2 linked regions of the Homo sapiens genome follow. The protein of the gene in region 1 purifies or fractionates together with the protein of each later gene. This does not show direct contact. Each region holds a gene or a part of one and is shown on either strand. Other genes may lie near its edges.

The links.
Region 2: the proteins of TUBGCP2 (region 1) and SRSF10 purify together in Homo sapiens (affinity purification with mass spectrometry; one large-scale study listed by BioGRID and IntAct). This does not show direct contact.

Annotation. Positions count from the first base shown.
Region 1 is NC_000010.11:133,278,024-133,281,704, reverse strand, and holds the end of TUBGCP2 (gamma-tubulin complex component 2), read left to right. Parts: intron 1-268; coding exon 269-432; intron 433-1,803; coding exon 1,804-1,939; 3' UTR 1,940-3,070; downstream 3,071-3,681. UniProt on the Homo sapiens protein: Component of the gamma-tubulin ring complex (gTuRC) which mediates microtubule nucleation.
Region 2 is NC_000001.11:23,970,245-23,974,056, reverse strand, and holds part of SRSF10 (serine/arginine-rich splicing factor 10), read left to right. Parts: intron 1-2,044; coding exon 2,045-2,207; intron 2,208-2,430; coding exon 2,431-2,484; intron 2,485-2,617; coding exon 2,618-2,915; 3' UTR 2,916-3,812. UniProt on the Homo sapiens protein: Splicing factor that in its dephosphorylated form acts as a general repressor of pre-mRNA splicing. Seems to interfere with the U1 snRNP 5'-splice recognition of SNRNP70. Required for splicing repression in M-phase cells and after heat shock.

The sequences.
Region 1 (3,681 bases):
AGCTGCTGGGAAAGCTCGTTCATCTCACCCCAAAGGAGAGTGACCACCTCATCCCACGAGGCCTGGAGTGTTTCTCTGAGTGCTGGGTTCTCAGGAATGTTTTTTGATGTCTTTTTTACCTTGAATCTCCTGAAAACATCATGGAACCCATGTTTTCTATTTAAGAAAAGGGGAAGGGAAAGGACACCGGCCTGCTGGGAACAGTGTGGAGCCAAGAAGGCCCACGGTGGGGGTGGGCATGGCTCACGCACCCCGGCTTTCTTTCCAGCACCTGGCTGAGCACGCAGACACTGTGCAGCTGGTGTCCGGCTTCGAGGCCACCATCAACAAGTTTGACAAGAACTTCTCAGCCCACCTGCTGGACCTCCTGGCCCGGCTGAGCATCTATAGCACCAGTGACTGTGAGCACGGCATGGCCAGCGTCATCTCCAGGTGGGTGGGCGCCACCCCGGCTCAGCCCTTCCTCAGCTCAGTCCAGCGCCTGCCCCTGCCCAGCACCGCCCTGGCTCAGCCCTTCCTCAGCTCAGTCCAGCACCTGCCCCTGCCCAACACCGCCCTGGCCCAGTGCTGTCCCTGCTCAGCCGTCCCCCAGCTCAGCCCAGCACCTGCCCCTGCCCAGCACTGCCCTGGCCCAGTGCTGCCCCGGCTCAGCCTTCCCCCAGCTCAGCCCAGCACCTGCCCCTGCCCAGCACCGCCCTGGCTCAGCCCTTCCTCAGCTCAGTCCAGCACCTGCCCCTGCCCAACACCGCCCTGGCCCAGTGCTGTCCCGGCTCAGCCTTCCCCCAGCTCAGCCCAGCGCCTGCCCCTGCCCAGCACCGCCCTGGCCCAGTGCTGCCCCGGCTCAGCCTTCCCCCAGCTCAGCCCAGCGCCTGCCCCGGCTCAGCCCTTCCTCAGCTCAGCCCAGCATCTGCCCCAGCCCAGCGCCACCCCAGCTCAGCACCTGTCCCTGCATCCAGGCCCCATCTCCCCTGCACCCTCCCCTGGTCCACCTGGTGTAGCCTCCTTCAGAAGGTGGGGCAGGTCTGTGTCCTGGTGCTAGTGCTGGTCATATGCCACTCCCTGAAGTCAGGCTAGCCCAGCTCTCCCTGGGGTGTGACATTCTGTGCAACTGGGCTGCCCCATTGGCACCCTGCGGCTGTGTGTGTCCTGTGGGGCTGATCAGGCCTGGGTCAGCTTCCCTCATGCTGCACTAACACCTAGCCTGGGGGAAAGGGCCAGGTGGCCAAACTGCCAGCCTGGAAGGGGTGGTGCCCTTGGGGGTGCTGTCCTTGGGAAGGTGCCTATTTGTGCTTTTGGACCACCCTGTGCCCTGTGCCCCCCACAAATGTTCTGATTTTCTGAGCAGGGATTTCTGAGGCCACCCTGCATTGAGAACCACTGCTTGGTTCTCCAAGCCCCTGACACCTCAGGCCCCATTGCTAGGCCCTGTTGGGGTGATGGGAGCCCCAACTTTCTGGGGCCAGGAGAGAAGAAACCTGTGTTTGTGCCTTTGAGCAGGACTGAACAGGACTGAAAACCTTCCTGTGGAAACATTAGTTAGGAGCGTGCCTCACCCTCACCCCTGCAGGGCCTCTTATGGTCTCTGTAGCTGAACACTTCCCCATGGTAGGAGCAGGGCTGCTCAGGACGGACCCGCAGAAGGAGTGTGTGCCCCAGCTCCACTGTCCTTCCTCACCCCTGCTGCCCAGCACGCACCCGCAGAAGGGGTGTGCACCCTAGCTGCACCGTCCTTCCACACCCCTGCTGCCCAGCATGCACCCGCAGAAGGGGTGTGCACCCCAGCTCCACTGTCCTTCCTCACAGGCTTGACTTCAATGGTTTCTACACGGAGCGCCTGGAGCGCCTGTCTGCAGAGAGGAGCCAGAAGGCCACCCCCCAAGTGCCTGTCCTGCGGGGGCCCCCGGCTCCTGCACCCAGGGTCGCAGTCACCGCACAGTGAGCCCTGGCTGTGACAGGAAGGAAGGGTGTGGGGTCAGCAGGGACTGGTGCAAATGGGTCCAGAATTTTCAAATCGAATGCTCTGTGTTCTGTCTTTGCAGTTTAAATATAAAGCAGGAATGATTGACTCAGCTCACTTTGTTTCTCAAGGCGCTGGGTTTCGTTTTATAGAAGCTGCCCAGGCAGGGTGGATGTCTCCCTGGATTTGCTAATCTGTTTGCTTTTTGAAATTACACTATCACCTTTTTGGGTGTTTTTGGCCTCAAAGTGGAAATACATGGTGTTTAAGCCAGGAGCAAGCAAAGATGCATGTGGGGTAAGATCCAGGCCTGGTGTCCACATCTTTCCGGGTGAGCTGGGGCCGGGCTTCCTGAGGTCTGTCGGAACCGGGACAAGCCTCTGGAAACGGTCAGGGAGTTGTGGAAACCCACCGGGCATCGGGTGTCGGGTTTGCTTTGGCCCCAGAGGCAGCCCCGTTCCTTCTCCTGAGGACTCACCCGCCTCCACGACCCTCCTCCTGCTGCTGCTCCAACTGGTCCAGGGCAGGAGGCCACAGACAGGGCCCTCAGGCACCCTGGGAGCCCACACCTCCCCCTCCGTGGGAGTGGGTCGAGGGGCAGGCTCTGCTGCTGGCTGGAAACCCCACCCCGCCCTATCCGGTACCGCCTTGTTACGTAGAACTTACTCAGCAGACTGACACCCAATCCCCCTCGGGCGATCATCTGCCCTGTCTTCCCACCTCCAGGGCTACAGTGGGCAGCACCGCCATCCCCAGTGTGACAGGGCCCTGGGAGCCTCAGGGCTGCCCGGCCAGGTTGGTCTGCTCTGGTTACATTCTGGCCAAGCTGCCCCTTCCTGCTGACCTGCATGTGTATTGTTGTCACCTTCAGCTCTCAGCACCTCGGCCCCCTTGGGCAGTGAGGAAGGGCCCTGGAGGCGAGGTTGGGAGAAAGGATAGCTAGAACAGGATCCTGCGGGGAACAAGGGTTGTGGGCAGCTCTCACCCGGGGCTGCCTCACTGAGAGCACCGCCGAGTGGGGGTGGGGGTGTCCAACTCTCCAGCCACAAACCGCTTCCTCCTTGTCTGCAGGCTGTGCAGGTCTGGCCTGTGAGTAAACACATTTATCAGCAACCCAAGCTGTCAGTCTCAGTGTTGTGCAAATGCCGGACTGGTGAGCAGAGGAGCCTGCTAGCTTTCCTGCCTGGCCCCGAGGCCCAGAAACCCCTGATCTTGTGTCCTGGGGTCTGGGAAGCCCTGGGCCTTGAGAAGTGGGGTTTGCAGGTGGTGATAGGAGGAGGGGAGGGAAGCCTCCAGGGCTGTGGGGTTCAGGCTCCCAGACCCCCCGGCACCTGCTGAAGAGGAGAGCTGTGTTCTGTGGGATTGGGTGGAACTTCCTCAGCGCGGGAGGAGCCTGTTCTGGCCCAAGCTGGTCCTGTCTTTTTAGGAATAAATCCCTGGTAGCTCAGCGTCGGCAGGGGCCTTGCTGTGCCTCTGATGTGGCCAGCGTGCCGCCTTTGCACTTTGCTGTTGAGTAACTTGCACCATGAGGTCAAGGAAGGGAAGTGTGATTGCCAGCTGGCCATTGTTCTATAATAACAGGGTCACCTGCATGAGCTCAGGCACAGGCCAGTATCCCCAGCCCTACCTGGGAGCCTCTCGGCAGCCTGGGGGACCTCGTCCTGTGCCACACAGGCAAGCGGACACACCCCCAGGCAGCAGAAGTCACCTGCGGCCCAGTGCCA
Region 2 (3,812 bases), on another chromosome or scaffold:
TCATGCCACTGCACTCCAGACTGGGCAACAGAGCAAGACTGTGCCTCAAAAAAAAAAAAAAAAATAGCTGCTGAGGAGAGGAGGAGCTCTTGAGTACTCAATGCAAACTATTGGAACTCTAGTTCTTGAGTTGGGTAATAGATTCCTGGTTATGCATTGTGTTTTTTATATGTACTCCAATACATAAAGTATCTGCTTCATTGAATTGAATGAGATAAGAATTGAAGTGTACATAAGGCATTTAGGAATGCCTTATTATTCTACTTAGGGTCTTAGAACTGTAATATTACTGCATGTTGACACTGCACATTGTTCATAGGCCACCTATAAATATTTTGTTAATTGTGTTCTTAATGAATGGAATCTGTGGTGGGATCATTCCAAATCAGCATATGGTTCAGTGGTCATTTTTTTCAGCCATTTGAAAATGTAAAATATGTGGGTGTGGTAGCTCACGCCTGTAATCCCACCACTTTGGGAGGCCTAGGCGGGAGAATTGCCTGAGCCCAGGAGTTTGAGACCAGCCTGGGCAACAAAGTGAGACCCCATCTCCACAAAAAATAAAATAAAAAATTAGCCAGGCTTGATAGTGCACACCTGTGGTCCCCGCTAGGCAGGAGGATCACTTGGGCCCAGGAGGTTGAAGTTGCAGAGAGCTGTGTTTGCACAAGTGCACTCCAGCCTGGGTAGCAGCAAGACCCAATCTCAAAACAAAAAGGCACTCACTTCCATTTGGAGTTTTTAAAAATCCTTTTATGGTATGGATTCCCAGTGTCAGAACAGTTACCAGGTCTTGGCTGATAAACTAGATGGTGAGAAGACTTTGAAAATAGTTGGGGATATTAGTATTATTTTTAACATAAAACAGTCTTCTAATACACTTTCTTGAAAATAAATACGTGCCTTTTTCAAGATGAAAATTTGCAGTTACCTCAACCCAGCCTTGGCTAAATCACGTTCTGCATCTGCATCTCACACCAAAACTACAGACACCTCTAAAACAGACTCCAGGGCTGGGCACGGTGGCTCAAGCCTGTAATCCCAGCACTTTGGGAGGTCAAGGCGGGCAGGGGCAGATCACCTGAGGTCAGGAGTTCAAGTCCAGCCTGACCAACATGGAGAAACCCTGTCTGCACTAAAAATACGAAACTAGCCTGGTGTGGTGGCGCATGCTGTAATCCCAGCTACTTGGGAGGCTGAGGCAGGAGAATCGCATGAACTCAGGAGACGGAGGTTGTGGTGAGCCGAGATTGCGCCATCGCACTCCGGCCTGGGCAACAAGAGCAAAACTCCGTCTCAAAAAAAAAAGACTCCAGGCTGGGTGCGGTGGCTCACACCTGTAATCCTAGCACTTCGGGAGGCCGAGGCGGGTGGATTATTTGAGGTCAGGAATTCGAGACCAGCCTGGCCAATATGGTGAAACCCTGTCTCTACTAAAATACAAAAATTAGCCGGGTGTGGTGGCGCGTGCCTGTAATCTCAGCTCCTCAGGAGGCTGAGGCAGGAGAATGGCTTCAACTGGTGTGGGGTGGAGGTTGCAGTGAGTTGAGATTGCGCCACTGCATTCCAGCCTGGGTAACAGAGCAAGACCCTGGTCTCAAAAATTAAAATAATTAAAAAAAAAAGACACCAAAACACATACACACTTTTTTTTTTTGGAGACAGGGTCTCTGACCCCCAGGCTGGCGTGCGGTGGTGTGATCACAATTTACTGCAGCCACCAACTCATGAGCTCAAGTGATTTCCCCCCTTAGCCTCCTGGGTAGCTGGAATACATGTGCAAGCCACTAGGCCCAGCTAATTATTTTTTGTAGAAATGGCATATTGCTATGTTGCCCCAGGCTGGTCTCAAACTCCTGGGCTCAAGTGATCCTCCCACCTCAACCTCCCAAAGTAGTGGGATCACAGGTGTGAGCCACCACCCGGGTCATACATACTCTCTTTGGGATATAAGAGGGGATGCAGGGATTTTTTTCCCTATTTATTGAGGGCTTTAATACTGTTTTTAATATTTTTAAATATTTCTGTTCTTTGTATTTCCTAGCACCAAATCAGATGAAAGCCAAGGAAGGGAGGAATGTGTACAGTTCTTCACGCTATGATGATTATGACAGATACAGACGTTCTAGAAGCCGAAGTTATGAAAGGAGGAGATCAAGAAGTCGGTCTTTTGATTACAACTATAGAAGATCGTATAGTCCTAGAAAGTAAGTGTGCTGTGTAGCACAGTGATCTGTTTAAAAAATGTATTTGTTAGCATTTAATTTTTTTTTACTATTTTGTATACTTTTAATTATATACATTGAATGTTTCATTGAGACAAAAAATACTGTAGCATTTTATTTTAAAAGTTTTATGGTTTGCTTTTAATTAGAAACTTTGCCTCTATGAATAGATATTTGTCACTGCTTTTTCTGATATGCTTTTTAGCAGTAGACCGACTGGAAGACCACGGCGTAGCAGAAGCCATTCCGACAATGATAGGTAAATAACTTTGCTTTGAAAAAGACTCATGTATTTTTTAATTTCAGAGTGAACTTTTGCTCTAAAAATAACAAATTTGATTAATATAGAATCTAATTTTTACTCTAATTATATCTCTCCTCTGTTTTGAAAGATTCAAACACCGAAATCGATCTTTTTCAAGATCTAAATCCAATTCAAGATCACGGTCCAAGTCCCAGCCCAAGAAAGAAATGAAGGCTAAATCACGTTCTAGGTCTGCATCTCACACCAAAACTAGAGGCACCTCTAAAACAGATTCCAAAACACATTATAAGTCTGGCTCAAGATATGAAAAGGAATCAAGGAAAAAAGAACCACCTAGATCCAAATCTCAGTCAAGATCACAGTCTAGGTCTAGGTCAAAATCTAGATCAAGGTCTTGGACTAGTCCTAAGTCCAGTGGCCACTGATAGTATAAACCATGGTCATTTTTAGGCATGTATCATTCATTTACTCATAGTTTGGTTTACTTAAATTATCAGGAATACAATGTTGCAATGATGCTTAAAAAACACTTGTTAGTTTTCCCTGTACCAGGCAATGGTTATAATTAAAATGATATGCTGTTGAGAAGCCACTCTTAAGAGTCCAGTTTGTTTAATGTTATGGGCAGCTACCAATTTGTGGTGTCTCTGTATATTTTTGTAAAGATTCTCATTTTTTATGCTTGAAGTATTTGGTGAAAAGATGTTGGTTGACCATAATTTGCAACATTGTCTCATTAAAAATAAACTTTCATATTCATATTTGGTAGAACTGTTAACCTAGAAATGTAGCTTGCTAATAAGATAGAATGATACAAAAGTGAAGTAGTAGCCACAGTACAACACTGACTGCTCAGACACATTTAGGTTCAGGGTGGACCTTTATGTCTTGTCAAGATGTCTAGGCCCGGCTGGGCGTGGTGGCTCACACCTGTAATCCCAGCACTTTGGGAGGCCGAGGCGGGCGGATCACGAGGTCAGGAGTTCGAGACCAGCCTGACCAACACGGTGAAACCCCGTCTCTACTAAAAATACAAAAATTATCCGGGCATGGTGGCACATGCCTGTAATCTCAGCTACTCAGGAGGCTGAGGCAAGAGAATCGCTTGAACCTGGGAGGTAGAAGTTGCAGTGAGCCAAAATCACGCCACTGCACTCCAGCCTGGGCAACAGAGTGAGACTCCGTCTCAAAAAAAAAAAAAAACCGGATGTCTAGGCCAATGATAATTATTTTTGATGCAGTGTGGATTAGTTCTTTTGTTAACCCCACTGTCTTGGGGAATGATGCCAGCTGGGAAATTGAGTTTTTGACTGAAACATGGA